Homo sapiens: one gene and its partners. The protein of the gene in region 7 purifies or fractionates together with the protein of the main gene of each other region. This does not show direct contact. Each region holds a gene or a part of one and is shown on either strand. Other genes may lie near its edges.

Region 1 (4,477 bases), about 54 Mb from region 7:
ACTCCAGCCTGGGCGACAGAGTGAGACTCCGTCTCAAAAATAAATAAATAAATAAAAATAAAAAATAAAGCAGCGGAATCCTTTTCCCCTTTTCCAATTGTATGCAGGATCCTAGTGTACAAGAGAGAAAAAGACAGAGGTGTTCTGTTTGAAGGGGAGGTTTGATTTCCTCTGCTTCCCTCCCCTGCCTGTGCTGGCTCTTGAGGCATCTCTTCAGCACCTTTAGCCTCTGCGGAACCCACCTGGAAAACCCATGCTCCACAAGGTATCACAGCAGCTATTCGCCACCTGTTTTTCATGGTCAGACAGTAAGTCCTTCCTGTTATTTAACCTTGTCCCACCCACAGGTTACAGTGGCTTGAATCTTCTCTTGCTCTGTCCTCAGTTGAAAATGAAGCTGACCATGGCACCTGTGTCACGCTCAGCACATGGGCTTGTTTATTCAAGCCATTGGGAGATGCTAGAACTCACTCCTTGTCCTACCTGTCAAAACCTCCACAGGCCTTGGAAAAGAGTAAGTGGTAGGGCCAGGCACAGTGACTCACGCCTGTAGTCCCAGCACTTTGGGAGGCTGAGGTGGGCGGATCACTTGAGGTCAAGGAGTTTGAGACCATTCTGGCCACATAGTGAAACCCCGTCTCTACCAAAATATATATATAAATTAGCCGGGTGTGGTTGTGCGTGCCCGTAGTCCTAGCTACTTGGCAGGCCGACGCTGGAGAATTGCTTGAACCCAGGAGGTGGAGGTTGCAGGGAGCCGAGATCGCGCCACCGCACTCCAGCCTGGGCAACAGAGTGAGACCCTGTCTCAAGAAAAAAAAAGAAAAAAGGCTAAGTGATGAGATTCACTGACCTTGAAAGACCAAGCAAGAGGACACCCAGCCTACAGTGCGCAGCAGAGAGGGTGGCCCCAGAGTGACAGCAGCTCAGGAAATATGGTGACAGAGGATAAGTTGGCATGGGAGGAGGCAGAGCTTGGCCAGTTTGCTTTGAGGAAAAGGACCTAGGAGTCCCAGCTCCCCCACGTCAGAATCCCCCCAGTTCTGCTGATTTCCTCATTCTCCCCAGCACAGCCCAGCTCTCCTATTTTGGGAAACACCTGGCTATAGTACCCAAGGCTGCGGTACTAAGGATGTACTCAGGTGCTGTCGCATCCTGCCAGGAGAATCTCAGGGCAGCTCCAGAACTCAGAAAATGTTCTGGTTCCTTCCCAGAACTCTCCCCTGCCCAGGCACCTGAAAGAGAAGGCTCCCAGGAGAGACAGAAGTTAGTCATTAGGTATGGGGGCTTCCCTGGGAGGTGTTTCTCTTCCTGGATTTTCTTTTTTTGAGATGGAGTCTTCCCCCTGTCGCCCAGGCTGGAGTGCAGTGGCATGATGTTGGCTCACTGCAACCTCCGCCTCCTGGGTTCAAGCGATTCTCCTGCCTCAGCCTCCTGATTAGCTGGGATTACAGGCACGTGCCACCATGCCCAGCTAATTTTTGTATTTTTGGTAGAGACAGGGTTTCACCACGTTGGCCATGCTGGTCTTGAACTCCTGACCTCAGGTGATCTGCCTGCCTCGGCCTCCCAAAGTGCTGGGATTACAGGTGTGAGCCACTGTGCCTGGCCTCTTTCTGGATTTTCAACTGGAATTTTCTGCCCAGCCCTTTATTGGAGAGGCCCAAGAAGGGTTCCTGACCTTCCACCTTAGTGCTTTTAGAGAGAGCACAGTCTTTCTCAATGCCCCCTCACTCCCAGCTAAACTCTTCTTTACTGGTCTGGGGAGTAGAGGAGAGGTTTGGAATGACAGGATGAGTGCTCCAGCAAGGGCTTGTGTGCAACCCGAGGCCCAATCCAGGAAAGCCAGTTGTGGTGGCAGGGACTGGGTAGGCAACTTATGGAGCCGGGGTCTTGCTGGCTTTGTCTAATTTGGAGGGTGGTTCTTTGAGCTCGATGGTTTTCAACCTTTTTATTGCAAAAACTCTTTTTTAAAAAAATATAACCCAGAAGTCCACTGTATAAAAACAATAAAAGCAAAGTTATCCTGGGATGCTCAGGAGATTTGGGGCGGGGGGATGGGGATGGCTTGGTGACAGGAAGGGCGGGGATCTAGAGTGTTGACTGCTCCCAGCCTTCTCCCTCACCGCTGAGGTCCCTTTACAGAACCCTGCCAAGCAGGGAAGGAGAGGAAAAAAAGAAAAACCACCTGGTCCTTCTTGGTTTCTGAGACTCTGAGCCCTCATAGTTTTCTACTGCTCTGATCATTTTCTCTTGCTCCCTTGTCTATACCTAATATTCTTTTCCTAATCATTTTTCTCCTTTCCCTCTCTGTTCCCTCAAAGAACAAGTCTATTTTTTAACTTGGCCTCTCTGTGGATGAGTCCTGTCTGCCTGTCCAGTTCTAACTTCTCTCCAGATTCCCACTGTCAGCTGGTGGCTGAATACTTCCACGAGGATGACCCACTAGCATCTCAAAGGCATGTCCCAGATCGTAGAACACAGGAAGGAAAGGCCCCGGTATTTGAACCCCTACTCTGTTCTTCTTAACAGAATCACTTTGGACAAGACACTTAGTCTCTCTGGGTCTCAGTTTCCTTATCCCTGAAATAGATATGCTAATACCTATCCCTTATAATTAAAGCAGAATAATAAACATAAACTTTGGTAAACTATATTGTACTTCCTGGCTGGGTGCGGTGGCTCATACCTGTAATCCTAAGACTTTGGGAGGCTGAGGCGGGCGGTCACTTGAGGTCAGGAGTTTGAAACCAGCCTGGCCAACATGGTGAAACCCCCATCTCTACTAAAAATACCAAAAAAAATAGCTGGGGGTGGTGGCGGGCACCTGTAATCCCAGCTACTTGAGAAGCTGAGGCAGGAGAATCACTTGAACCAGGAGGTGGAGGTTGCAGTGAGCTGAGATCGCGCCACTGCACTCCAGCCTGGGTGACACAGCGAAACTCCATCTCAAAACAAACAAACAAACAAAAAAACTATATTGTGCTTCAAAAGCTTTCCCCTGTTGCTTTGTTCCCTGACAAAAAGTCAGAGAGGTTAAATAAAGCCATCATCTCCTCTTCCCTCTCTCTCACCCCATACATCTCATCAAGCGCAGAGAATAACTGGTTAAACGATGGATGAATGCTGATTCCTCCTTTCTACCCTCACTGCCACCATCCTCTTTCAGGCCCCCGTATCCTGAGATCCTTGTTTGCATGTCTAGAGTCATGATGCTAGACTCTCCAAGTTATTCTGCACACTGAAGCTGTTTTCCTGGAACTAAAATTAGACGATATCATCCCTCTTCTCGTATACCTACAAGGATTCCTTACTGTTTGCAGAATAAAACCCAAAGTCCTGTCAGCCCCATGGCATCCCCACCATGCCTTCTGGCTTCTCACCACAGTTCACGCTTTTCTTCATGAAGTGCTCCTCCTCACCACTCTCCATATTGCAAAGCTTTCTCCTCTTTCAAATACCTCCGTTTTGGCTGGGCGCGGTGGCTCACGCCTATAATCCCAGCACTTTGGGAGGCTGAGGCGGGTGGATCCCTGGGCGAGACTCCCTCTCAAAAACAAAAACAAAACAAAACCCTCCTTTTCCAGCAAGCTGTGCCTAATACCATGTCAGAAGTAGCTGCTTCTCTCTGTGCACTTCCAAGATCCACTGTTTCACTATTTGTACCAAATGCATTTGGTTTTGTGTAATATTTAGGTATTATGTCTATGTCTCACATCAGATTGTGAGCTGTCCAAGGGCTAAGACTATGGCATTATTTTTCTCTTCTACACACAGTAGGCAAGTACTCAACAAATATCTGTTAAACTGAATTGACTATCACCAAATTTCACTCCTAACAGTTACCTTATTATCCTATGTTTGGTCAGTGATGCTCATAATATCAAAATGAGATAACATCCTTTTATTTATTTATTATTTATTTAGAGACAGGGTCTCACTCTGTCACCCAGGCTGGAGTGCAGTGGCGCAATCTCGGCTCACTGCAACCTCCACCTCACGGGCTCAAGCGATTCTCCTGCCTCAGCCTCCTGAGTAGCTGGGTTTACAGGCATGCAGCACCACACCTGGCTAATTTTTGAATTTTTAGTAGAGATGGGGTTTCACCATGTTGGGCAGGCTGGTCTCCAATTCCCAGCCTCAGGTGATCCACCCGCCTCGGCCTCACCTGAGTGCTGGGATTACAGGCGTGAGCTGCTGAACCTGGCCCTTTCGTTTAAAAGAATAAAAATACTTTCTCTAAGAGCTACAGTTCTGCATTTACAACTGCCTGTCAACAGTTCTGTTTAGAGGCTTGCAGCTTATGTATTCATTCACTCAATGTTTTTTAGGTGTATGTTCTGAGCTTGGTATTGTTATAGATTATTATAACACAAAGAGAGGATACTGCAAAATAAATAAATAAAATTAAAAAGACATTGTCCTTAAGAGCTTGAAGTTTTGTTTGTTTGAGACAGAGTCTCGCTCTGGAGTGCAG
Region 2 (4,477 bases), about 67 Mb from region 7:
GGTGCAAAAGTAACTGTGGCTTTTGAACAGCATGTGCATACAGTGTTCAGTACAGTATTTGCACTAAGTCAACTCTCGATAAACATTTGCTGGACAGCAAATGTGCTGATGCTGACGAGATTATCAACGTTTACACTCTGAATGCTAAAATGTGTTAGCTCCATGTCTATAATGCACAGGGTGCTTCCAGGTATGAGACCATGGGCCACCAGTGCCAGATCTTTGGAAGCTCTAGTGGAAGAACCGGTTCTTTCTTTAGATATCATGACTTCTAGCTTCCTATCTTAAGGAGGCTTCAGGAAAACTGTGAAACCAGCTATAAGGTACTTCAGAAGAGGGCCAAAAATGTCATTAAAAAGATGGGAAAAATGATTTGTAGGGATACATGAATGGCCTCAAACAGAGAAGTATGAGATTCTTCATTTAATTCTAGTCTGTGGAAGCTTGGGTGAGGAGACTGCTAACCAGATGTGGTCCTATTTTCATTGCAGCTAATACAAAACCAAATGGGCTAAGGATAAAGTTGTATTCTTAGATATAAGAACTTGTTGACAGGAAGGGATATGAGGTAACTGAACATGTATAAAACATCTTCACCTGGAAATATGTACAATGAACCAAAGATAACAGGCCATAGTTACAACAAGTTTTTCAAAAGTAACTAGCCGCAAAATGCTGTTCTTGCCCAATATTCACAGTGGCTTCATTCAAATTCACCAAATATATTCAGAGTTTTCCCACTTTTCCCATCACAATAGTGATGCTTTTCCATAAAACAGAATAAGACAAAACCAAAAAACAAAAAGTCAGAATGTGAAAAGAGGAGAAAGTCTAGGGAAATTCAGCTGTAAGCCCTCTCCCTCATTTCCTTTATGGCATGAGCTACATTTGGGTTTTGCTAGTCTGCATTCACCAGACTTTACCCAGCTCACTGGAGTTGTGGTTGTAGTTGGGGAGTGTCAGGGACAGGAATGGAAAGGTGAGGAACTTGCCTGGGCAACATAGTGAGACCCCATCTCAACCAAAAAATTTAAAAAATTAGCCAAGCACGGTGGTGTGTGCCTGTAGTCCTAGCTACCTGGGAGGCTGAGGTGGGAGGATGGCTTGAGCCCAGGAGGTTACAGTGAGCTATGATTGCAGTGCCACTGCACTCCAGCCTGGGCGACAGAATGAAATCCCATCTCACTGATATTTCATATATTGACATTTTATCCTCAATATATGAAAAATGAAAAAGAAAGAAGTCTCACAGCCTCTGCTCTGAACTCTAAAATGAGCCCTGTCTTTTCCATGTCTGCCACGCAGCTGGAGCTTGCTTCGCTCGTATTTAACTTTTCTGCCTTAGATCTCCCAGGGCCCCGGCCACATGAAAAAGTACTTCTGTGATCATTCTCTAACTCCCAGAATATAGGTATTTCTCCTTTATCTGGACTAGCCCAAACCCTTGAGCACTCTGAGTTATTCAAACTTCAGGTCAACTTTTTCCTACCCCTTTTATATAAGGATCTCAATCTTTTTTGAATTTCTCCTAACTCATCTATACTTTTATCCTCATACTGAATAATTTCTCGTGTTCTGAAACCAATCTGTCATGTAAATGACCTCAAGGAGAAGGGGTCATATTAGATCACACACTAGCTAGTTTTGGGATCTTCTCATTTTGTTTTTTTAAACCACTTAGAAGATTAGCAAAGGGAAGTCCAAAAAAAGAAGAAGAGAAATGAAGGCCTAATTAGTGACATCCAGAGGTGACAGAATAAAACTAAAGAGACTATACTTTCAAGTGTAAAGGTACTGGGAAGGGAAATGTTTATTTCTTTATTCAATATTTAATGAGTACCTACTATGTCCAGGCCCTGTATAAGCTGCTGGGGAGACAAAGCTAGTTCCGGTCCTTAAAGAACTAATAGTCTACACAGCATTTCTCAAGCTTGGTAACACTGATATTTTGGGCAGGATAATTCACGTTGTTTGGCATGGTGGACTGTCCTGTGTAGCTGCAGGATGTTTAGCAGCATCCTTGGCCTACATCCACTAGATGCCAGTAGGCATCCCACATCTCCTTCCCAGTTGTGACAACAAAAAATATCTCCAGATAATGGCAAGTGTCCCCTGGGGGACAAAAGTGTACCCCAGTTGACAACCACTAGTGTAGGAAAAGCAGATCATTTATATAAACACACTGTGACAAGTATTATTATCAAAACTTTGCAAGTTAGAGAAGAGGACTCCTTAATTCTCGGGGAAAGAGAGCAGATGCTACAGAAGGTTTCACAGAATAAATGACATTTTATGCTTAATATATGAAAAATGTTTTGCAGTAGGCCAAGCAGACAAGAAGAGGAAAAGTTAGGAACACATGGAAGGAACAGGGAAATAACAGGTAGAGAAAGACCATTCGAAGGCAGATACAGGAAGATGAGCAAAGGCCTGGGGGTAAAAGACCACAGAATATTCAGGCAATGATGGACGTTTACACGGTGGAAAATGAAAAATAAGACTGAAACCAGATCATGCCAAGTAAGAAAGGAGGTGGAATTTTAATATAAAGAAATAAATGCATATTTTAAACAGAGTGGAGCCCCTTTTCAAACAAAGCGTTACCTAGAGCCCCAGTATATTAAACTGATCAAAGTGTAACTTCTGTGGTTGGGTCATGGTCCACTCAGTTTTCCCTGAGCTTCTAAGTTGGCTTCAGAAGCACTTCTGCAGAACCCTAGAACTCTAGGAAACATAATGGAAAAACCACTTTTGTAGGTAATAGGATACTACTGAAAGATTTTAAGTGCAGAATATATGTTCAGATTTGTTTTTCAGAAAAAGGCACTCTAGTGGCAGGGCTGAATACTGAGTAGGAACAAGGGGAAAAGCTTAAAGGGACAAAGACCAGTCAGCATTTTATATGTAGGTTTCACTTGGACATCAGTCTTAAGGCTACAAGATACATGAAAAAAGCACATTGGCTTTGAAGTTGTACAAATCTGGTTTAAAATTCTAAGTGTGCTACTAATGACGACCTTGGGCATGTTAGTTGACTTTGCCAAGCTCTATTTTCTCATTCTGTAAAATGGGGCTACCTACCTCACTTGACCACTATAAAAAAGTACATGTAAATGGAGATTGGGCGCTGGCATAGATAAGCGCTTAGCAAATATAGATGTGCATCATCTTCTTTCACTTGGTCTCTTTATGATTCAATTTTATTAAACCTCCTTGATCCTACATAACTTAGAAAAGGGAGATTTAATTGCTTGCTGTTAATAACTTTTCGACTTGGTAAAGAATAGATACATAATTCTTTTTTATAAGGATGTATTTTTTGAGTGACCTGTTAGCATGAGCCTCATGCTAAGAGAAGGTCAGCATTTGGCTTCCTCTTACTTTGGGATGTGCCAGGACGTCTCATAAGAGGGAGTTCAAAACAAGAGTAGCCAAAACCCAAGCACTACGTGTGTCTGCCTGGCTCAGAGAGAGTGTTTCTGGCCTACTTCAGGTTAACAAAGCTTACATCAGTTCCATAGTTAGAAAGTCAGCAGCTAAAAACTCCACCTGTGTACAAATCTTTCAGGAGATCAAATGGTGTGAGGATTACAAAGACTGGATTAGAAAAGCCAACTTGCAAATCCAAATTTCCCTCTATTCTTTACCATCCTGTGTCAGTAAGTATTTCAGCTGTGAATATTTATGCCCCTCTCAGAGAAAACAATCTTTATTTCAAGAGCACTGATCTGTTTTCTCCTTTTCTTTCCCACTGTTTATCATCACAGTGATGACATAATGTCAGTTGAGACAAATGTCCACCATAACCAAGTGAGAGGTGCAGGGCTGGAGGATATAACTGGGTGGAAAATTGAGAGGAGGAAGAGTTCAGCTAAGTATTTTAGGATCACACACAGTGTCTGCAACTCAGTACATTATGCCAGAAGTCTTACAGTCTTACTTTCAAATTGTAGACAACAAGGTAGTCAATAAAAGCTTTCTGATACTCTCAAGGCATTTTTCATCCCTGTAACCCCTGTAACAGAGAATCTATCTTCTCTTACGGCTGCAGATTCCCTGGACACTATTCAGCATCACATCCACCTTCTCTGCAACTTGAGATTCTGATGTGAGGGAGAATTCAGCAGTCTTACCTTTGAACTAGGGTCCCAAAGATAAGACGAAGAAACTTTTGCATGTTTTCGGTACATAGCCATTTCCACTGTTCTGTTAGTAGCAAGAGGAGCAGATCCAGGGCTGTGTCAGCTAACTCTGTCTCTGTTCCTGAGGGATAAAATGGCATCAGGAGTAACTCAGAAGAGACCCATACTTGAGGAACATCTTTCAAGGTACTGGTGGCACCTGTGTCTCTCTACCTTCATGCCAATCATCTGGTATTTTTGCAATCCCTCTACACTCAAATCAAAAGAGGTTTAACTCATATCTAGAAGGTTCAGTGACAGGCTCAGCATTTCTTTACAATTTTTATTAATGTTCC
Region 3 (4,477 bases), on a different chromosome or scaffold from region 7:
TCCATGTTGGTCAGGCTGGTTTCGAACTCCCGACCTCAGCTGATCCACCCACTTTGGCCTCCCAAAGTGCTGGGATTACAGGTGTGAGCCACTGTGCCTGGCCGATTTCCAGTTTATCTGTTAAGTTAGAAAAGAGTGTGTGTGTGGTACTTTCTTCACAGGGTTCCAGTGAGGATTAGAGGAAGTAAGTTGTAGCCAGAGACTGCATTTGATGACGTATGGTGAGGCCTGCTCTTACCTATATAAATCAGATTCAGCTCTGTGTGCTAGACATTAAACCTGAAGGGAATATTTTAGCTGGTTGGACCTTGAATTCACTCTGGGGGCTTGAGGTCTAAGTGACCATGGGAACCACTCTTCCTTGGGAGATGGAGCTTGGAGTCAGGACAGAGCCAGACTGGAACAAGAAGGGGAGCCCTTGGGGACAACCACATGGCTCAAGGCACACTTGGCTGGAGGGTTTTCTTGCTCAAGAACTCAGCAAAAAGGATGAGGGCCCCTGATCCAAGGATTCTGCAGGTGACTTGCTGCCTGTTCACTTGATGGATGCCTGGATTCCTGCACCCCAGCCATCCCCCATCCCTTGCTGCAGTCTGTGCTGGGGCAGTAGCCCAGCTGTGCCCAGTGAGGCCAGCCCCTGCCTGCAGGGAGGTGGGGGGTGGGGAAGGACAGGGTGGAAGTAGCTTGAAGTGTCCTGACCTTCCCTCGAGGGAGACTGCCTGGCGTGTGTGGCTGGTCTCATCAGCGTGAAAGCGGGCTGGACTGTTAAGGCTGGGCGCCGAGGTGGGCTCTGGGAAAGGAGGTCTGAGGCTCGGCCTGCCGAGGGGCAGATGCTTCCCTGGGCAGCTGAGCCCCCTACCTAAAGGTCAGATGGTGGTTGTTCCACTTCCTCCCGGTGAGGGCGTAGCGCTTCCGACGCCGCCGCAGGTTGGCTTTCACTCGTACCCCGAACTGGTCTGGCACCCCACAGCGGGGCCGCTTCATCCACCTGGGACATGGACACAGAGGGGTGAGCACGGAGCCTCCCCTCCACACACCTGCCTGTTCTGGCACTGCCACTTCCGCCACTTCCGGGCTTCCCAGCCGCCCCTCCTATGACACAGTGGGGATGGGGGACTCTCAGCTTCAACTTCCAGTAAAATGGGCAAAATGCCTGTATTGGAAGACTGAGTGCCCAGGAGTGGTTCAGTCAAGGTGAGCCCTTCTCTCCTTATCACCCAGTAATGGAGGGTTCGCTCAAGGCCTTCTGTCCTGGATACGTTATGCTCTGTGCATTGTTTTCAGGGACATGGCTTTAGGTCATGTCACTTGTTAGATTCATAGCCATGCCTAGCTACGATTTCCCTTCCACAGCTCCTGTACTGTACCTCCACACTCCCCTGGCCATGTCAGACATCACTAATCAATCACTGTGCTTCTTACTGCTAAGGCCTGGATTCTGCCCCTGGAGCTTTCTCAATACAAGGCTTTGGGCAGCCACTCCAACCAATCAGAAGTGACATGGAGGACCAAACCATTTGGCATCTCTTATCTAGGCCACTCTTTTCTGGAAACTCCACATGCTGAGCCCTCTTGAGAGCAGGCCAGATGGAAGGCAGGTGCCTGTGGGGTGTGGATGGTGGGGGGAACTCACTCCTTGGTCTCTTCGTCGAGCACACCGGTGACTGGGATCCCGTAGAAGCGCTGCATCTCTGCAAGGGCCGAGGCCAAGATCTGGGCGGAACGCATGGTGGACATATGGCGGCTGGGCTGAGGCAGGTAGCCATAAAGCCGCAGCCAGTTCTGCAAAGAAGCCGCAACTCTGTCAGCAGGTCCTGGCACTGCTACCTCCAAACATGCACAGCCTGTGCCGACCACTTCCCACCACCTCCACCACCGCTGCTCTATCTGAGCCGTCATCACCTCCTGCCCAGGTGACCGTGTGAGCCTCAGCACCCTCCTCCCTGTCATCTCTCCTCACATAAGAGCCAGAACAAAGGCCAGGTCAGGTCTGGTCAATCCTCTGCTTAGAACCCTCTGAAGATTTCCCATTGCAAAGGAAAAGCCATTTGTACAAGAGCCACAAGGCCCTCACTGTCACCCCACCTTAGCTGGACCTCACCACCATCCACCCCAGCCGGGCATGCTCCTGCCGCAGGGCCTTTGCACTTCCTGCCTCTGCTGCCTGATGCACTCTCCCGCCAGACAACTGAGAGGCTTTCATCCTCATTTTCTTCAGGTCGCTGTTTCAATACCACCTTATCTAAGAGGTCTTCTCTGACACGTTAAAAAGGCCCCATCAGCTATACCCTGCACCCCCTCCTTCCTCCCATGCTTATCACCCATCTGATGCACTGTACATTTCAATTAGGTGTTTGCTATTTGTCTTCCCCCATTAGGACAGAAGCTGTGTCCACAGTAGCTGACAACTGCACTAGCCCCTCTGGGGTGGGCCCCTACCAGGCCAAGGACCCAAAAGGATTCAGGACCTCTTGAGGCCTTACTCTTTGGCACTGCTCCCCAAAGACCTTAAATCTCCTGGAAGGAGTAGACAGATGCAGGTACCCATCCAGGCTCAAGGGCAGGACAGAAGCCTGAAGCCCAGTCCCTGCTCTGCTACAAACTCTTTATTCTCCCTGGGCCCCAGCTTCCTCACCTATAGAATGGGGAACCATGGGCTGCTGAGGGGTGAGGTTTGAGGAAAACAGCCTTGGAAAAAGCTGGTACACAATGGGTGTGCCCTTCCCTTTCTAGGGCTTGCTTGGCAAGTCTTCTCATCCATCCACCACCCACCCTGCCAGATGTTTCTCAACACCCTCTGTGCCAGCTGGGGGCCATGGGAGGACTAGGCTGAGGCATCCTGGCCTTCAGGAACTTACAGTCTCCCTGGGAGACCCAACACACCTACAAAACAAGGAACCCACACCCCACAGGTTGCACGGCCAAGCCAGAGGGCAGAGACAGGCCGAGCTGTGGTAGAGAGGGGATTCTGCCCTGCCTGCTTCATGTCCTCAAGCCCTCAAGAGCACGGTGACCGCCATGGGAGGCAGTGAGCAGAGGCCAGGGGCTGCCCTGGACCTTGGACACTGCAAGTGTCTGTGTCTGACTTGTCTGGGTCTCTGGGGGTCTCCAGAGTGAGAAGCCCTTAAGGCTGGCACTCTGAGTGCTCTGGGAGGTGAGGGCTGCACCCCGAGGGCCCAGGCAGCAGGGCAGTAGCTGGACACGGTGGTTGCTTTAGGCTGACAGCCATATTGGCCGGCCAGATCACACTCACATATCTGCCTGCCACCAGTGTTACATCTAATACCTCAGGCACCTGCTTTCTGGTACCATCCACCAGCCCAGCCCTGGCACCCGGCCAGGTCCCTGGTGTGGCTGGGCAGGCCAGCTCAGTGGTACCCAGGCTGCCAATAGACGGAGCAGCTGCTGACCCAAGGAGGGGCAGCATGGAGAAGCTGCCAGGGTCGCAGACTGGATGCGCAGCCACAGCTTTGAGGCCTCTCAGGACCCGGGAAACAGCCCCAGAGCAATGAGGTGGAAATGCAGAGCTGAGAAACCACCACCAGCTCTGGGGACAGGTGGAGCTAGGCAGACCCTGGCTTGGCTATTTCCGAGGTGTCACTCCACCTCCTTATCTCTGTCGGTCATCAGTAAAAGGGGGATTGCACCAGGACCTGCCTCATCTCCTGGGTTCCTGTGAGGAGGAATCGTAAAGTGCATGCTAGTGCCTGACACCACCCTGTGCAGCAGATGGTGCTCGACAAACGTGCAAATGACAGAGACCAGAGGCCTGTGTGGTTGTCCCTGGGGCAGGCAGCCTTCGGCCTCCTTGACCCATCATTGACCAAGAAGGCTGATGGGTCTGGACTTCCCAAGACTGGTGATGGGCCAGGCTCCACCAGGACCCCAGAGTGGAGGGAGGCAGGAGGCCCCTAGGGCCCCTCCACTAGCACTCCTCACCTCTGGCCCAGGGCGCATTCCCACAGCTCAATAAGATACTGGCAATGTCGTGGGTACCCTCCCTGTTCTTCCCAAGCACGGGAAACCTCTCCCAAGGCTCCTGTGCTGGAAGGTGTGGAGCAGCAGATCCACCATCCTTAAAGGACAGTTTCCCTGAAGGTGCTTAGGGAGATCTAGAAGGCGAGGCCATGATGCTCAGCCAGCTCTAACGGCAAAGGGAATGCAGCTGGAGGCCGGGGGAGTGGCGGGGGACTGGCTGCCGGCAGATGAGGGCACCTCTACATCACCTATTTGCATAAGGTAAAAATATCTCTGGGAGCGCAATCATGGGCCATGGAGGGGCTGATTAGCGGTATCTGCGGAGCGACAGGAGGGGAGGGTGGGGGAGGATCAGGCTGGGGCCCTGGGGAGGAAAGCAAGGGAGCTGGCCTGTCTGCAGTGAAGAGCTCCAGAGACCGGCAGAGGGGCCCCTTCAACCCCGGGGCCAGCTCAGGGGCTGCCAGGAGGGTCCCAAGGGCACTATGGACCCTCCACACAG
Region 4 (4,477 bases), on a different chromosome or scaffold from region 7:
GCATATAGAGTCATTTCTTAATACCCAAAATGAGTAGATGGTTAATGGTTAACTTTGTTGCAGATTTAAATGTGAAAATTATAAGGTTTCATCTGTCTGCTCATGAAGTATGTCGTGTTTAGCTTTTGAAATAATTCACTATAATTGAGAGAAGAAAATAAAGCTATAATTAAGAGAAGAAAATAAAGCTGATGAGGAATATAATTTCAGATTGATTTTAATAATTTGACTCACATCTTAATTGGATCATGTTGAAAAATTAGATCTTAAACCAGGTCACATTGAGATAATTTTTTTTTCTTCTTTGAGATGGAGTCTCACCCTTTTGCTCGGGCTGGAGTACAGTGGCACGATCTCAGTCACTGAAACCTCTGCCTCCCAGGTTCAGGTAATCCTCCTGCCTCAGCATCCCGAGCAGCTGGGACTACAGGCATGTGCCACCATGCCTGGCTAATTTTTGTATTTTTAGTAGAGACAGGGTTTCACTATGTTGGCCAGGCTGGTCCCAAACTCCTGACCTCAAGTGGTCCACCCACCTCAGCCTCCCAAAGTGCTGAGATTACAGGCATCAGCCACCATGCCCAGCCATATTGAGATAACTCTGCACAAAAGAAAACATCAATATCTACCTAATTCAGTAAAAGTAACCCAATTCTTTACGAAATGATTACATACATTAATGGATATTGTTTTTTTATAGAGAAACAGATTTACAAAAGTTCATTATGCAATAAAAATTTATCAGTACTGTTTTTATCTTAAATCTTAAATGACTGAAAATATAGCTGTATAATTATTTTACAAATTCACTCTCTAAAACAGTCATTGGACTTACCAGAAGTTAGATAAATATCTTGTCCCAAACTTCAATGTCTCTATTCTGGAAAGCACAGTAAACAAATGTAAGAAATAAATTACTAAGAAAAAAAAAGATAATCATTAATACCTAGAGTTAGCATTTCTATAAAATAAACAGCAAGAGACATTCATAAATGTTTAAGAAATATGATTATAGGCCCACACTGGTATATTACAATTAAAAAGTACACTCATGCTACCATTGCTTTGGTGAAGACAACTCTACACTGTTTAGTGCCACTATATAGAGCCCCACCTAAGAATTTATTTTAAACAAAGTTTTCAAAAGCTTTGTTTCTTAGGAGAAAAAGTATGAAGATATATAACTGACTATGATTCTTTTTAGTAACTTTGCCAGATAACCTGAAGGTGAAACATAACATTCAATTATACAATTATATTAGCCCTATGATAATATTTTCCTACAAAAGATTTCCTTTCTCCATACTTTGATTGTATTCTTAGAACTATTTTATCATTATTCCATACTATATAATCTTACTGAAAATTATCTCAAGTCCTTTGTAGCTGAGGCAAAAAATGAATAAATGAAAGCAAAGGATGAAAGGAGAGGAGGAGATGTACATATAAGAAAAATGTATTGTTTTTATTCTAAGATTATCTTGCTAACTGGCTTATTAGGAGGGCAGGCACTGACTTGTTCTCCCAGGAATGAAACATTTCATCTAACTTCCTTGTAACCAATAGCATTTACTTGTGAGAAATCTGGTCTGTTATGGTTACAGGAGATGAACATAGCAAACATTGAGCCCACAACTTGGGCTTTATTTACATCATCATCTAATCAATCCATATAAAAAGTCAAATCACCAGCTGGGCGCAGTGGCTCACTCTTGTAATCCCAGCACTTTGGGAGGCCAAGGCAGGTGGATCACCTGAGGTCGGGGGTTTGAGACCAGCCTGACCAACATGGTGAAACTCCATCTCTACTAAAAATATAAAATTAGCTGGGAGTGGTGGTGCACGCCTGTAGTCCCAGCTACTCGGGAGGCTGAGGCAGGAGAAACGCTTGAACCTGGGAGGCGGAGGTTGCAGCGAGCCGAGATTGCACCATTGCACTCCAGCCTGGACAACAAGAGTGAAACTCCGTCTCAAAAAATAAAAATAAAAAAAGTCAAATCACTATAATTTACCCATGTTTGATCATTTAGAATGCAACATAGCAACCATCCATCAGAACTACTAAAAAGGTCTTCCTTATACTTAACTTCCCCGTAACTTTTCCCTACTGGACCTAGTTTTGTACCACAGACCCTCTTCCATTAAACAACCTTGTAAGTTTAAAAACAGCTGCCATGAGCCACAAAATTCCTTCTCCAGTCAGAATCCTTAATTCTTTCAACTACTTCTCAGCCCCTGGTTTCTTAAGCTTTCAGCACTCAAGACCACTCCGAGTTGCTGACTCCAGTTATCTGATACTGACAACACCATGTACGGTAACCCCTGTGCCTCCGTTTGCTAAAACCTATAAAACTAGGATAATAATCCTAACTACCTCATGAGATTACTGTGATTACATGGGCTAATCTGTGTAAAGAGCCTAGAATACCTTACATGTAATCAGTGTTACATGTTTGCTATCGCTATCATTCATAGAATCACAGCAGCTTTTTTGGTAACTCGATCATACTGACTCATTCAGCTAAAAATATGCTACTATTTTCTACATCTCTACAAACTACACTTGAAAAAAACCTTTTTGAGCCCAGCAAAGATTATACATCTCATCTGCTTATTAACTTTCATGAGGTGGGCTAAGACATAGCCTATCCTTTCAGTCTGTTTCGGGAACACAGTGGATGACATGAATGGGCTTAGGAGCCAGACTGAACATACTGGAATACTGGCTTTACAATCTTAAGCAAGTTACACCTCTCTGTGTCTCATTGTTTCTCTGAAAATGAAGATGATAAATCATTCTATAAAGACCTATTTAGCACCTATGTACCCTAATATGTACCACCCATTTCCTCAGCAGCAAATAAAGCAAAGTCTACAACCTCAAGTGACTTACATCCTAGAGGGGGAAGATAGACAGTAAACAAAGAACTAGTAAATACATGCTAGGTCAGATGATGACAGGTGCTAGGGAGAAAGATAAACAGCAGTGTAAGAAGAATATGGAGTTCTATGTCAGGCACGGGAGTAGGGGAAAGGAGGAGGTTGCTATGTTATATAAGGCATTCTGGGAAGACTTCTCTAAAAGATATTTTTCAGCAGAAACCTGAGGGAGGAAGGAAGGAAGCAAACTTCCTAGCTAAATGAACAGCAAGTGCAAAATATGTGCACTTGGTGTGGCCTGAGGAGCAGCAAGGATGCCAGGCTGAGAAAGTGACAGGGAGGGCACTTGGAAATGGACCAGAGAGGCAACACTGTAGAGCTTTCTATGCACGCTTTTTTTTTTTTTTTTTTTTTGAGATGGAGTCTGGCTCTGTTGCCCAGGCTGGAGTGCAGTGGCGTGATCTCCACTCACTGCAATCTCCGCCTCCCGGGTTCACACCATTCTCCTGCCTCAGCCTCCCGAGTAGTTGGGACTAAAGGTGCCCGCCACCACGCCCGGCTAATTTTTTGTATTTTCAGTAGAGACAGGGTTTCACCATGTTAGCCAGGATGGTCTCGATCTCCTGAACTTGTGATCCGCCCGCCTCGGCCTCCCAAAGTGCTGGGATTACAGGCATGAGCCACCGTGCCCGGCCTCTATGCACGCTTTTATCTAAGTGAGATGGAGAAGGCATCAGAGGGCACTGAGCAGAAGGGTGAGGTTGCCTGGCTTGGGTTTTAAGTGGCTGCTGTGTTGAGAATATACTACACAGGCAGCAAATAGGAATATTTGCAATAAGTGATGAAAGTGGCTTACATACATGTGGCAGAGGGAAGGCAGTAGGAAATGGTCAGTTTCTGGATATATTTTGAAGATAATGCCAACAGGATTTGCTAATAAATTGACGTAGAATCTGAGATAATTATATGGTGTTTTGGCAACCTGAGTTTGTATCCTGGGAGGCTCTGCCACTTACCATGTGACCTAGCAAGTACTTAAATATCTTTCTGCCTCAGTTTCTTCATTTGTAAAATAAAAATAGCATCTACCTAATAAGACTATCGTGAAGATTACGTGTAAAAAAACCTAGCAAGTACTTAAATATCTTTCTGCCTCAGTTTCTTCATTTGTAAAATAAAAATAGCATCTACCTAATAAGACTATCGTGAAGATTACGTGTAAAAAAACTCTTAGAAGAGTGCTTTCTACCATATAAGCATTAACTATTGCTATCATCATTATTATTCACTTATAAGCATTAACTATTGCTTATAAGCATCTAAGCATAGTTAATGCTTATCACATATAAGCATTAACTATTGCTATCATCATTATTATTCGCTTGCTTGTGAAAAAATAAGAGTTGCAGGAAGAACAGGTTTGAGGGTGGGATGGAGATCAGGAATTCCATTTTAAACATGTTAAGTTTAAGATGTCTATTGGACATCCAAGTGAAGACATTAAGTAGGCAGCCGGACATCAGCAGTTTAGCAGGAAGATCAGGAGGAGGATACAGGGTATAAGTGGATGGCCCTGATATAAATCTAGGAATTGGTA
Region 5 (4,124 bases), on a different chromosome or scaffold from region 7:
TTCTCCTGCCTCAGCCTCCTAAGTAGCTGGGATTACAGGCAGGTGCCACCACACCCAGCTAATTTTTGTATTTTTAGTAGAGACAGGGTTTCACCATGTTGATCAGGCTGGTCTTGAACTCCTGACCTCGTGATCCTCCTGCCTCAGCCTCCCAAAGTGCTGGGGTTACAGGCGTGAGCCACCGCGCCCTGCCAATGGCTCTTGTTTTATGCTACCCTTTGCTCAGTTGGCATTTCCACATAGCCACCTGCCCTTTCCCCAGCACAGTGATGAGAGTTTCTGGCTGTTGGCACAGTGCCAAGTGACCCTTGTAACCTTCACGCCACTTTGTATAGAAGGATAACTCCACAAATATTCACTGAACCCAGGTGTAAAACTGGTAAAAGGCAGCTTTTTATAAGCAATCATTCCTTTTTTTCTCCAACTGCTACTCCTTTCATTCACTTCTACCTCTTCGTCTTTGATGTTTGATTGTAGCAGTGAAACAAAATATGCAATTGGACTTGTATAAAAAGCAGTGAGGAATTATTAGAAGACTTCACATGGTGAGGGCAGGAATTGTCATCTTTCTTATTCACAGCCCTATTCTAAGTGCTTGGCACACAGTCAGTGCTTAATAAGTAATTACTAAAACGGTGAGTTCATGGCAATTACAATTGTTTTTGCCAGTGTTTTGTTGCATATTGCCGTACAGTTTATGTAAGAATTTATATCACTTTCAAGTTTTTAAAAACTATCTTAAATATCTGCATCCACCTGACAGAGTACAATATGAAGAGTGATTGACAGTTTACCACTTTTCAGTTTTCTATTAATGACCCAGAAAAACCGTAAGCCAGGTTGCAGTTTGACTCCACAGTCCTAGAGAGAAATAAGGTGAGCATTTGCTCTCAGCCCTCCTAGAATGTCATCGAGTGACTTCATCACTTCGAGCTTTTGTGTTTTCTGGTAAGACCATGCATGAGAAGAGAGGGAGAACATTCTACATTTAGTAACATTTATTTATGCATTCAGTATCAAGTACATAAGTGCAAATATCCAGAGTCCGTAATTGAATCCATTAGGAACTACAGAGAAAGTAATACAAATTGTAATAAAGTTAACATGCTGGTACTTTTTAGTAACCATACATGTAAATCAGCCCACCAATCCCATACAACAAAAGTACTGCATGTTTGTTTTGGATTTATTCATTTATTTAATTATTTTAAGTTATACAAAACTGATTACCATAAGTGCGGTCGACTGCTTTTATTTTTACGTTGTGTGTGTTGGAAAAATGCTAAAACATCAGTCTACAATTCTATATATTGTTATTAAAGATTAATCCAACCAGCAACCCAAGGACATATAAGCGATTTCCACTATTGCATCAGAGCACTCGGCAGGAAAGGCCTAGCCACGGGGAACATTAGAAGCTACAGAAGCATTGCAGAGAAGAGAAGAAGAACACCGAAGAGGGAAAGATAACTTGGGCTCTCACCATCATGCACTTTTTTTAGCAACACAAAATTAAAAACCACATCTAATACACTTTTCTCTATACTTTAGTGGTTGACACAAGTGACTCAAATATCCTAAGAGTACAAGGAACAGCCTAAAAACAGCTGTTTTAAGGTTTGTCTCTAAGATTATGGTACTGGAGGGAGGGGGGAAAGACAATCAATTTGCAGTAATGAGTAAGAAGAGAGCTGTTACCACTCCAGACATTCCTGTTTGTGTCCAGTCCCCGGTGGGAAATCAGTTTACTCAGCATGCCTCTTAGCGCCTGGGATTTTAGCCTGAATCCTAAAAAGACAGTATCAAAAGGTAGTAAATCACAAGTGTTATTAATGAAATCATTTTATGTGTTGTTGCTTTAATTAGCTAAGTGACCAAAGAACTTAATATTCCAGAAGATATTATAGTCTTTATGTAAGTACATCTGCAAATACTCTTCTATAAAGCAATAAGAAGGAAGTAAAAACTGGATAATGAAAATAACAGCAACAAAAAAGAGAATTGGAAGAAAGCCACATTTTTTAGATCTTTTTAGGTGGAGGAACATATTGACTTATTTCAGGATTACAGAAACTGTGATATAGTTAGGGTGATTATTTATCCCCCATCTGGGACACTTCAGAAAGAGAGAGAAAGTGCTATTACTGACTATGCCAGGAAGATGAGCATAAGTAGGGATGGTTATATAACTAGGGATATAATCTGTTCCTATGTTGGACATAGGAAAAGGAACCTATGTTCACCCTCAGAGTAGTCTAATTACCCACAACTGGAATTTAAAAAGCTGGGTCCTAGTCTCAGCTATTCTATTAATTAGCTGTGTGGCATCCGGCAAGCTAAGGGACTTTTCTGGTCCTAAATACTCATTAAAATGTGGGCATAGACTAGATATCTCCAGGGTCCTGAAATTCTGTGATGCTCACAATGTAGCAGCATGATTTTCGGACAGGTTTACACTGGAAGTGTTTTGTTAATTTGAAGATTTATGAGCTTATCGTGCAGATTTTGATTGAGACCTCCCTCTGTGCCATGAGGTACCCTTCCATGTACTGGAATTCAGTGGTCAACAAAAGGGAGGAGATGCTTGCTCTCATGGAGTTTTCATTCCTGTAGGAATTGAGGAGACAGAAATAAACTAGAAGACAAGAGAAGTTTAGATGGTGATAACTGCTATAAAGAAAAACAAGGTGGTATGGCAGGCAGTGAGGGGCACAGTGGTAAGGTGTGTACCACCTCTTTTAAATCCACTCATCTGAGAAACTGATCCTCAGAGGACAGGAAGGGACCATCAGGCAAAGATCTGGATGTGAAGTGTTTCAGGCAGAGGGAGTAATGAGTGCAGAGGCATCACAGAGAGGACAAGCTGGCGGCAAGGAGATGAGAAGCCCGTTTGCTTGGGGTATGGACAGGGGAGGTCTGAAAGGCAGGCAGGGACCAGATGGTGGGTGTTGGAGTTTGTGGGATGCGGTGAGGAGTTTAGATTCTACCCTGTGTGATGGGAAACCATTGATGAATTTAGGCAGGGGAGTGACGTGATCTGATTAATGTTGTAAGAAGATCATGATGGTGGCTGTGTAAAAAAAAAATTGGGAAATGAGAGTAGAAGCAATGAACAGAGGGAGAGAAACCCACAGCAGTCCAAGTACCCGAAGGCAATGCCTGGATTGTATGGTAGACATGGAAATGAAGAGAGGGGAACAGTCTCAGGGTTAGTTTAGAGATGAGGCTGCAGGACCCACTTGATCTGTTGATAAACTGAATGCATAGGCTAGGATTAGAAGAAGAGTAATCAAGGAAGATTCTTTGGTTTTTAGCCTGAGGAACCAGGTGAAAATGCCATTTACCAAGATTGTGATAACTGAAGGAAATACAAGTTCTGGGGTGAGATTGCACGATGTGTGGCTAAGTGAATCTGAAAGGTCTATCAGACACTTTAGAGAAACCTTACATAAATAAGTGGATAGACCTGGTGCTTAGTTGAAGAGGTCTGGGCTGGAGACACAAGTTTGCAGCCCTAGACATGAGATAACCTTTAGGGTCACAGGACCAGAAGGGAGTTGGACAAGAGGAAGAGGTGCCAGCAGAGGACATGTGCAATGGTGACCATCTAACTTCTATTTGAATACTTGAATGAATGTCAGGGTACTCACTCCTTCATGGGGCAGATGGTTCTATTATTGAGCAACTCTAATCATTACTCTTTTCCCTCATATTTCATTCAAATCTCAGAACTTCTAAAATTTCCATTCACTGCTCTTGAGAGAAAAAGGGAAATCCTACTCCTTTAGCAATGTTAGACCTCCAAGTATTTGAGAATGGCTATGGTGTCCTTTTAAAGTCATCTATTTTCCAGGGTAATCATCCCCAGCAAAGTTTGCTCTTCACTGCCCATTACTATCAGATTTCTAATACCACAGTACCCTGGTCATCTTTGTGGCATTACTCCAATGTATTAATGCATCTGTTAAAATGTCCAACCCTGAAATTGAACACAGATATGGGATGGCCAATATGGAATATAATATGACTGTTGCCTATGTTGATTTAGACTTTGTACTCCTACTAATAACAACTCAACTTGCATTGATTTTTTAAAGATGCTTCAGCACATCATTGACTCACAT
Region 6 (4,477 bases), on a different chromosome or scaffold from region 7:
GTGGCTAGTTTGTATTTTTAGTAGAGACAGGGTTTCTCCATTTTGGTCAGGCTGGTCTCGAACTCCAGACCTCAGGTGATCTGCCCACCTCAGCCTCCCAAAGTGCTGGGATTACAGGCGTGAGCCACCATGCCAAGCCATATTTGTGTATTTAAACACATAAAAGGTACAGTAAAAATACAGTATGATCTTAGGGGACCGTTGTACTTCGGTGACCAAAACGTTGTCATGTGACATACGCAGTGGTGACACCCTTTACGAGCACCGTCTCTAGAGGTTTAATTGCTTTGTCCTTTCTAAATGAAACATAAATGGATGTTTGGAAATCCTAAAGGCGGTGTCTACATCATCCTATCCAGCATCCACACTCAGCAGCACAGCAGCGGGCGCGTGGGACCCCAGCCCCCACCTGCAGGCATGCACGACCACGATAAGCTTGTTTCTCTGCGAGCTGTGCCGGATGGTCAGCTGGATCTGCCCCAGTGGAGACTGTCCCAGGGTCGTCCCGCTGTGGGAAAAGAGCAGAAAGTCACCAGCTTGCCTGAGACTGGAGAACGTTGTGATTCATTGGTCCACTGTACACGATAAAATAATTTCTATTCATTTAGACAAAAAGAAGTCAAATTACCCATGAACTTAAACATAATTTGAAACTTCTGGGTACAAGTCAAACAGATGAATATTTTACTTGAGGGTTCAATATAAATTAATTATTCAAAACTGACATTATTTCTTTTGTTTTTGTTTTTTGAGACGGAGTTTCACTCTTGTTGCCTAGGCTGGAGTGCAATGGCGCAATCTTGGCTCACTGTAACCTCCGCCTCCTGGGTTCAAGCGATTCTCCTGCCTCAGCCTCCTGAGTAGCTGGGATTACAGGCGCCCGCCACCACGCCCAGCTAATTTTTTGTATTTTTAGTAGAGATGGGGTTTCACCATGTTGGCCAGGCTGGTCTCAAATTCCTGACCTCAGGTGATCCACCTGCCTCGGCCTCCCAAAGTGCTGGGATTACAGGCGTGAGCCATCGCGTCCAGCCAACTGACAGTTTTTTAGTTAGGGTCCTGAAAACTAAAAGTAAAATCCTAAGCCCCCACCCCACTCCCATGTGAGTGGACCCAGGGGACCCCAGAGAAACTTAAACACTGAGTTCCTGACCACAACAGGACGGGAGGTTATTTATACCCCCCCCTTCGCAGTTCAGATGCAACAACCGACTGGCATTAATGCTGCAGCAGAGATCGTTAAGACTGAAGGAACAGATTCCTTGCGGCAGTAAGATACCAAGCTACAAAGAAGACCTGGGGCCATGCCAGGCAAGGGTAAGCCTCACACCCAACGCTTAACAGAATAAACTGGGTTCTACCTGCCACCAGGTGTTTCTTTCTCCAGCAGCTAAACAAGCACTGGCCTCGAGAGCAGCAGTGTTAAAGCAAAATCCCAGCTTGTCCTGATCCAGATGCTGACTCAGTGACCCCTGCTCCACCGGCGCTAACTGCAGCTTTGACTGACGAGAGGCTGATTTCACAACTTCCTCCTGATGGCAGACCCTGACCACGGACTGCTGCTGGCTGTTCTAGAGAGGCTGGGCACTCTGCGGCATTCACAGCTCCTCCTGGAACCTGCTGAGGACGCGTGCTCCGCACAAGCTCCTGCCCTACCCTTCCTCCTCTGAGGTGCTTCCGGGCCTGTCAGGCTGGCCAGCCTGCAGGCTGCAACCCTATAAGGATAAGGAATAGTCTCCTTTCTAAATGTGCAGATCTTATGATTCACCAATTGAGCACCCGAGGTTAAAACCACACAGTGTCCTTATTACAAGCATCAGCCCTGTGGTCCTTGTTAAGCAGTTTCTAGCCTGTCCTACCCGAATTTGCATGTCCCGTCTCAAAGCCTCATGCAAGCCACGTGCTCTCTTCCCATCTGATGAGACTGCAGCGCCCTTCCTTCCATTTCTCTCTGCTCAAGGATGGAACACAGACCCCCAAAATGACAACTGGTCTTGTTTGTTCAGTGGCCCCTAAGATCATTTCTACTTCCCAAATTGAGCTCCTGAGAAAAAGTGTTTCCTTGTTTAAAATTCTATTTCCTTCTGGAGCAAGAGAGAAGGAATGTTTTCTTCTTTCCAAAATAGTGGACATGAGAAAGCATGAAAGAAAAAAGTGAGTGTGGCTCAGAGGAGGGCGGCTGTGCAAGCTCCACAGTCTGCGTGTGCTTTTTCTAACAGCTCAGAAGCACCTTTGCCTCCGTTTCTGTTACTATTTTCTTATTATTCAACACACCTCTTATAACACCACACAGGGAGAACTATTTCAAAGGTCAATTTTGTTTCTTCCACCAAGAGGAAAAGGTTAACATCTGAAGCTTGTGATAACTACAGACAACTTTTTCCTCCGTATCTAAAGAAACCCTTAACACACACCTATGAGTCATGGGGCTTAAATAAGGAGCCAACACAGACATCCGAAGACAAACAAAAGAGACTGAGCAACAGGGATGGGATCCAACTACGTGAAAGAGCAGGTCTGTCCTCACACAACGGGGAGGCCAGGGCTTCTCCAGTGGCCGCAGCGAGGCCCGCGGGCCAGCTCTGCGTCTGTCTTCCTGGCAGAGGCCCAGGCACACAGCAGCGTCCCGGCGCTGCCTCCTGTCTTTCCTACTGTGAAACCTATTACTCCATCACGTTCTAATCTTTAATGACTAAATCCTAGAAAATGGCAGGTTTTATTTCCAAAGTCCGAGATGCAGTGAGCAAAACGGCAACACAACCTGAAGTGCTTTCAGTTAACCTAAGATTAGGCCTCCCTCCCCAAAGCATGCCGGCCTCATGCTCTGCTGCGTTAAACGACTCTCCCCCAGCGTGGGGTGGGGGGCGCTTGCTCTGCTGGTGAGAAACAACATGGTGGCACTTAGTTACTTTTCCAGCTGCCTCAGCCTTTGCCGCAGCTCCTGGGTGGCGATGGGCAGCGAGATGTCCGAGGCGATGCTGGGGGTCGGCTCCTTGACTGAGATGTGGCCTGGGGAGGCCAGGAGGCTGGAGGAGCTTCTGCCCAGGTCGTGCAGCCCCTGAGGGCCGGCCTCAGGGGGCTGGGCCTTTTCTTCCATACCAGGCTTATCACTGCCCCCAATGACTGGTGTGGATGGAGCTGTGTTGCTGCCACCAGGGCCTGGAGACCCAGACATATGAGATTTGATGGATGTTTTCCTCCCCTCTTTGGACACAGAGGGACGTTTGACTTGAGCTGAGTGTTGGTGGTCTGGAGGCCTTTCTCGCTTTTCGAGATGGAGCACCTAGAGGTGGACATAAACATAAAAATTAAACTTGGTGACACTGGTAACATCCTAATACTGGAACAGCCTGGGATGTCTTTACCTGCAAAAATTTCTTTAAAACTTAGCTCAAAAAAAAATTTTTTTTTAAAGGAAAGTTTAGGTAACCAAAATGTCACTTCTGTGATACAAATACCACTTTTTTCCCAGAGATGAGGACCTGCTAAGCTGCACAGGCCAGAGTGCTGTAGCTCTTCACAGGGGTGACCATCGCGCACTACACCACAAGCTCCTGGCCTCAAGAGATCCTCCCGCCTCAGCCTGCCAAGTAGCTGGGGCATCGCCGAGGCCTGCGTCTTCAGGCTCTGGTGGCAGCAACAGGGCGGTGGCAGTGATAAGCCTGGTGTGGAAGGGCAGGCCACCCCCCTGAAGCTGACCCTCTGGTGCCACACAACCTGGGCAGAAGCTCCTCCATCCTCCCCAGGCCACGTCTCAGGCAAGGAGCCCCCCATAACACTTCTGCGTATTCCTCTAGTCTCTTCCGTTTCCATGTATTTCTACACAATTGTGGGACAATGTTTTTACATCAAGAGCCCAGAGTCGCATTTCCTCGACACAAGACCAAAGCCCGTATTCTACATAAGGGGTTTCCACCCGGCGTCCCCAGAGGGAGGAAGAAAGTCCAGAACCCCTGCTATCCAGCAAGATCACCCCAACAACCTGACATGAGTGCAGGAGCAGGGGGTTCCCGCAGGGCCTGGGGTCTCCCAGTTGTGTGAGCACATGAGCTGGTCCCTGGGCTGGCTTGAGCAGAGTCCACACCTTGTAAATCACTCCACTCACGTGACAGCTTAAAGGTTTTTTCTGGTTTTAGGAAATAACGCTGCGGTGAACATCTTTATGTTCCTGGTCTCCCCACACTTTGTATCACCAAAACAAAAGTCAGGTTTCTAGAAGAAAGGCCAAGGAGCCTTCAGATGAGTGGCTCAGGGTTGTCGCAGCTCCCTCTGGAGAGGTGTGCGACACCTCCAGTCTCTGCCGGGGCAAGGAGGCTGTTCCCATTGCCCCCTCAATAGAAGACATTTGTAATTTTCTTAAAAAGCTGGCTCTTTATTTTAATTTGCATTTCTTTGATTCATGAGTTTTAGTATTTCCCCATATGTTTGCCAGTTTTACTTTCAATATTTCCTTAGCTATTTACAAATGAATCGTGAT
Region 7 (4,477 bases):
ATCTTTAAAACACCAAGAATAAAAACACTGAGGTTCTTACCAGCCACTTAATGAACAACCCCTTAGAAATGACAATTTAGGGTAAGGGTGCACCTACTAAATGTATGTAGATTGGTTGTTTAATTTGATCAGAGTGGTTCCATTACTTGTGAATTTGACAATAAACAAAAACAGCATTAAAAAAAAACTTCTTGGCCGGGCGTGGTGGCTCACGCCTGTAATCCCAGCACTTTGGGAAGCCAAGGCTGGCGGATCATGAGGTCAGGAGATCAAGACCATCCTGGCTAACATGGTGAAACCCTGTCTCTACTAAAAACACAAAAAATTAGCCAGGCGTGGTGGTGGGCACCTGTAGTCCCAGCTACTGGGAAGCTGAGGCAGGAGAATGGCATGAACCTGGGAGATGGAGGTTGCAGTGAGCTGAGATCGCACCACTGCACTCCCGCCTGGGCGACAGAGCGAGACTCCGTCTCAAAAAAAAAAAAAAAAAAGCAAAACACACTTCTTATTCTTGGAGAATAAAAACAATCCAAGTCAGCAGGCATTTGCAGGCCATATTGACATGACCATTCTTGCTGTCTCCTGTATGCTTGCCTCTGTGCTGAAAGGGGTTTCCTAATGTATCATAACAACATTTATTAGTCAGAATCTGCATAAGTATTTAAGCATATTGATTCATGCCAAGCCTTCTGGGAAACATCTTGACTCCTCCCTCTACCTCTTTAACAGACCACCTCAGTGGAAGCGGGTGGCAGCTTTATGACATTAATGTGAAGGGCCACAAACTGAAACAACTGACTCACATGTGGAAAGGGAAAAAAGGCATAACAATAGTCTTTGATTGTGAGGAAGACAGATTTCTCATTTGTACTTGAACTGCTATGTGGTATCTATTAATATGTGCAAGTAGTTTGTAACCTACAAATGGATGTCAAACATTAGGTATTGTTATTTAATAAAGGTCAGGATTTAAGGGTACAAAGCAAATGTGTCTAGGTCACATTGTTGATCTATATTTCATTTCTTCACATTAATGGTACAGTTATTTACTACAGGCAAGACACTGTGTTAAGCCCTATAAATGTGTTCACTTTTTTTTTTTTTTTAGATGGAGTCTCACCCTGTTGCTCAGGCTGGAGTGCAATGGCGCTATCTTGGCTCACTGCAACCTCCACCTCCTGGGTTCAAGTGATTCTCCTGCCTCAGCCTCCTGAGTAGCTGGGATTACAGGATTACACCCAGCTAATTTTTTGTATCTTTAATAGAGGCAGGGTTTCACCATGTTGGCCAGGCTGGTCTCGAACTCTTGACCTCAGATGATCCACCCGCCTTGGCCTCCCAAAGTGCTGTGATTACAGGCGTGGGCCACCGTGCCCAGCCAAATTGTGTTTAATTTTCATACCAACTCCAAGATAGATACTATTATCCCAATTTTCAAGTTAAGGAAACTGAGGCTCAGGACTTGCACAAGATCACATAATTATTAAGAGACAGGGCCAGGATTGAAATCTAGGCATTCCTGGAGCTCAAGTCTGTGTTTTAACACATTACACTGCCACTGATAATCTGACACGAATGTAACACTCAGATGATGTCAGTGTTGGACGGGGGCCACATTCCTTTTTATTTAAGGGTTAACTCAAAACACAAATTACATATTCACATTTGATTAATATGGTAGAACAAAGTGTGAAAATGAAGCCATAAAAAGTACACAGAACAACTAAGTTTCATGAGTGAGGAAAGAAATATTTAAAGCAAAACCTTTTTCAAAAAATTGCCCAAGCTGTTTTTGCTTTGAGCTAATTTCCATGAACAAACATATAAAATGTAGTTTTATTTTGGCATCATGATTTTCTTTTTTCCTTTTCTTTTCTTTTTTTTAAGACAAGTTCTGGCTCAGTCACCCAGGCTGGAGTGCAATGGCACAATCTCAGCTCACTGCAACCTCTGCCCCCAGCTCAAGCCATCCTCCTACCTCAGTCTCCTAAGTGGCTGGGACCACAGGCGCACATCACCATGCTCAGCTAATTCTTGCTTTTTTGTCTTTTTGTAGAGATGGGGTTTCACCACTATTGTCCAGGCTGGTCTCAAACTCGTGAGCTCAAGCAAGCCACCCACCTCAGCCTCCCAAAGTGCTGGGATTACAGGTGTGAGCCACCAGACTCAGCCAACTTTCATAACAACAATAAAAAGCAGTCTCTAGCAAGTATAGAATTTGTTCTTTTTTTTTTTTTTTTTTTTGAGACGGAGTCTCGCTCTGTCCCCCAGGCCGGAGTGCAGTGGTGCAATCTAGGCTCACTGCAAGCTCCGCCTCCTGGGTTCACGCCATTCTCCTGCCTCAGCCTCCCGAGTAGCTGGGACTACAGGCGCCCCGCCACCACGCCCGGCTAATTTTTTGTATTTTTAGTAGAGACAGGGTTTCACCATGTTAGCCAGGATGATCTCGATCTCCTGACCTCGTGATCCGCCTGCCTCGGCCTCCCAAAGTGCTAGGATTACAGGCGTGAGCCACCGTGCCCGGCCAAGTTACAGAATTTCAACATCGTGTCATCAGTAAACTATTAAAGTACTTTTAAAGTTCAGATGATAGACGTGTCTCTATACTTGAGGCCTAATAAAGGCAACTCTTGCTCTGAAATGAACACTGAATATTTCAGTCTCTTTTACCTCAACCTCAAATTTTTGCCTCTGATATCTTCAGTTTCCTTCAAAGGCAGAAATCTGGGAAGCCATCCTGACCCCTGATCCCCATCTCTAAGCATACTACATTGCTGGCTGCATTAGAACCTAAGGCACTAAAGTACAGAGTGCCATCACTCATTCTTGACCTGTATATAGTAACTAATACTTCTAAAATTAATTACTGGACAGGTCAGTCAAGACAAAATTGTTTTCTGTAGGACACCAACCAATCACTTATTTTTCTTTAACTAAAATCAAGACAAGTCTCCAAAACCAAGAGGAGCTTGGTGAAAGAACATGAAGCTGGAGGATGACAGCAATACGTACAGATTTTTTTTTTAAACAATTAAGGTAATTTTTTAGCATCTACATTTTAAATAAGTTAAATTTTGGAATAACAAACTTCATCTTATTTTCATGGTGCAAAAGCCTGAGACACTTCCTTTGTGACATGAAGAAAAACATCCAGCAAGGAGGAAAGGCTTCTGCAATAAAAATGATTACAACACATTGCAGTAACTTTTTTTTTTTTTTGAGATGGAGTCTTGCTGTGTCGCCTAGGCTGGAGTGCCATGGTGTGATCTCAGCTCACTGCAACTCCCGCCTCCTGGGTTCAAGTGATTTTCCTGTCTCAGCCTCCCGAGTAGCTGAGACTACAGGTGCCCGTCACTGTGCCCGGCTAATTTTTGTATTTTTTAGTAGAGACAGGGTTCCACCATGTTGTTCAGGCTGGTCTCTAACTCCTGACCTCAGGTGATCCAACCACCTCAGCCTCCCAAAGTGTTGGGATTACAGGAGTGAGCAAGCGTGCCTGGCCCCACACTGCAGTATCTTAAGGTAAACTTTTATGTTCAAGTAGTGACCCAACAAATGAGGATCTTGCATTGGGCCCACCAAAACTGTATTAGTGCTTTTTAGACAATATGAATGCACATTTGCAATGGATAAGCATTTAAGATAAGAGTCTCTTGGCTGGGCTCAGTGGCTCATGCCTGTAATCCCAACACCTTGGGAGGCCGAGGTGGGCGGATCACTTGAGGTCAGGAGTTCAAGACCAGCCTGGCCAACATGGCAAAACCCCATATCTAGTAAAAGTACAAAAATTATCTGGGCGTGGTGGTGCATGTCTGTAATCCCACCTACTCAGGAGGCTAAGGTGGGAGAATGGTTTGAGCCCAGGAGACAGAGGTTGCAGTGAGCCAAGATCACACCACTGCACTCCAGCCTGGGCTACAGAGCGAGACTCCAAAAAGAGTTTCTCTTTAGTTTATTTCTCAAGTGTGCCTTTCTAGCTCGTAAATTTGATAATTTATTCAACAAATACTTACCAAGTACTACTATATATCACTGTTTTAAGTGCTAATAGTGATACGTGTCTACAGCACATCTAAGAAATACAAATTCTGTAATAAAATTTTACTAAGAAATAATGGGTAAAGCTGGTCACAGTGGCTCCCATCTGTAATCCCAGCACTTTGGGAGGCCGAGGAGGGCAGATCACATGAGGCCAGGAGTTTGAGACCAGCCTGGCCAACATGGCAAAACCCCATCTCTACCAAAGATATAAAAATTAACCAGGTGTGGGCCGTGTGTGGTGGCTCATGCCTGTATTCCCAGCATTTTGGGAGGCCGAGGTGGGCGGATCACGAGGTCAGGAGATCAAGACCATCCTGGCTAACACTGTGAAACCCTGTTTCTACTAAAAATACAAAAAATTAGCCGGGCATGGTGGTGGGCACCTGTAGTCCCAGCTACTGGGAAGCTGAGGCAGGAGAATGGCATGAACCTGGGA

What was found.
Region 1: the proteins of RTN3 (region 7) and BACE1 purify together in Homo sapiens (affinity purification with western blotting; one study listed by BioGRID and IntAct). This does not show direct contact.
Region 2: the proteins of RTN3 (region 7) and SNX19 purify together in Homo sapiens (affinity purification with mass spectrometry; one large-scale study listed by BioGRID and IntAct). This does not show direct contact.
Region 3: the proteins of RTN3 (region 7) and MMP15 purify together in Homo sapiens (affinity purification with mass spectrometry; one large-scale study listed by BioGRID and IntAct). This does not show direct contact.
Region 4: the proteins of RTN3 (region 7) and TMEM68 purify together in Homo sapiens (affinity purification with mass spectrometry; one large-scale study listed by BioGRID and IntAct). This does not show direct contact.
Region 5: the proteins of RTN3 (region 7) and RTN1 purify together in Homo sapiens (affinity purification with mass spectrometry; one large-scale study listed by BioGRID and IntAct). This does not show direct contact.
Region 6: the proteins of RTN3 (region 7) and ESYT2 purify together in Homo sapiens (affinity purification with mass spectrometry; one large-scale study listed by BioGRID and IntAct). This does not show direct contact.

Annotation. Positions count from the first base shown.
Region 1 is NC_000011.10:117,306,001-117,310,477, forward strand, and holds part of BACE1 (beta-secretase 1 isoform A preproprotein), read right to left. Parts: intron 1-4,477. UniProt on the Homo sapiens protein: Responsible for the proteolytic processing of the amyloid precursor protein (APP).
Region 2 is NC_000011.10:130,899,122-130,903,598, forward strand, and holds part of SNX19 (sorting nexin-19), read right to left. Parts: intron 4,264-4,477; coding exon 4,134-4,263; intron 2,725-4,133; coding exon of another isoform or gene 2,655-2,724; exon of another isoform or gene 1-2,654. UniProt on the Homo sapiens protein: Plays a role in intracellular vesicle trafficking and exocytosis. May play a role in maintaining insulin-containing dense core vesicles in pancreatic beta-cells and in preventing their degradation. May play a role in insulin secretion.
Region 3 is NC_000016.10:58,034,777-58,039,253, reverse strand, and holds part of MMP15 (matrix metalloproteinase-15 preproprotein), read right to left. Parts: intron 1,783-4,477; coding exon 1,634-1,782; intron 989-1,633; coding exon 860-988; intron 1-859. UniProt on the Homo sapiens protein: Endopeptidase that degrades various components of the extracellular matrix. May activate progelatinase A.
Region 4 is NC_000008.11:55,763,101-55,767,577, forward strand, and holds part of TMEM68 (DGAT1/2-independent enzyme synthesizing storage lipids), read right to left. Parts: intron 881-4,477; 5' UTR 836-880; intron 1-835. UniProt on the Homo sapiens protein: Catalytic subunit of the alternative triglyceride biosynthesis pathway, which mediates formation of triacylglycerol from diacylglycerol and membrane phospholipids.
Region 5 is NC_000014.9:59,595,000-59,599,123, forward strand, and holds the end of RTN1 (reticulon-1), read right to left. Parts: intron 1,789-4,124; coding exon 1,746-1,788; 3' UTR 984-1,745; downstream 1-983. UniProt on the Homo sapiens protein: Inhibits amyloid precursor protein processing, probably by blocking BACE1 activity.
Region 6 is NC_000007.14:158,738,614-158,743,090, forward strand, and holds part of ESYT2 (extended synaptotagmin-2), read right to left. Parts: intron 3,284-4,477; coding exon 2,910-3,283; intron 509-2,909; coding exon 410-508; intron 1-409. UniProt on the Homo sapiens protein: Tethers the endoplasmic reticulum to the cell membrane and promotes the formation of appositions between the endoplasmic reticulum and the cell membrane. Binds glycerophospholipids in a barrel-like domain and may play a role in cellular lipid transport.
Region 7 is NC_000011.10:63,684,238-63,688,714, reverse strand, and holds part of RTN3 (reticulon-3), read right to left. Parts: intron 1-4,477. UniProt on the Homo sapiens protein: May be involved in membrane trafficking in the early secretory pathway. Inhibits BACE1 activity and amyloid precursor protein processing. May induce caspase-8 cascade and apoptosis.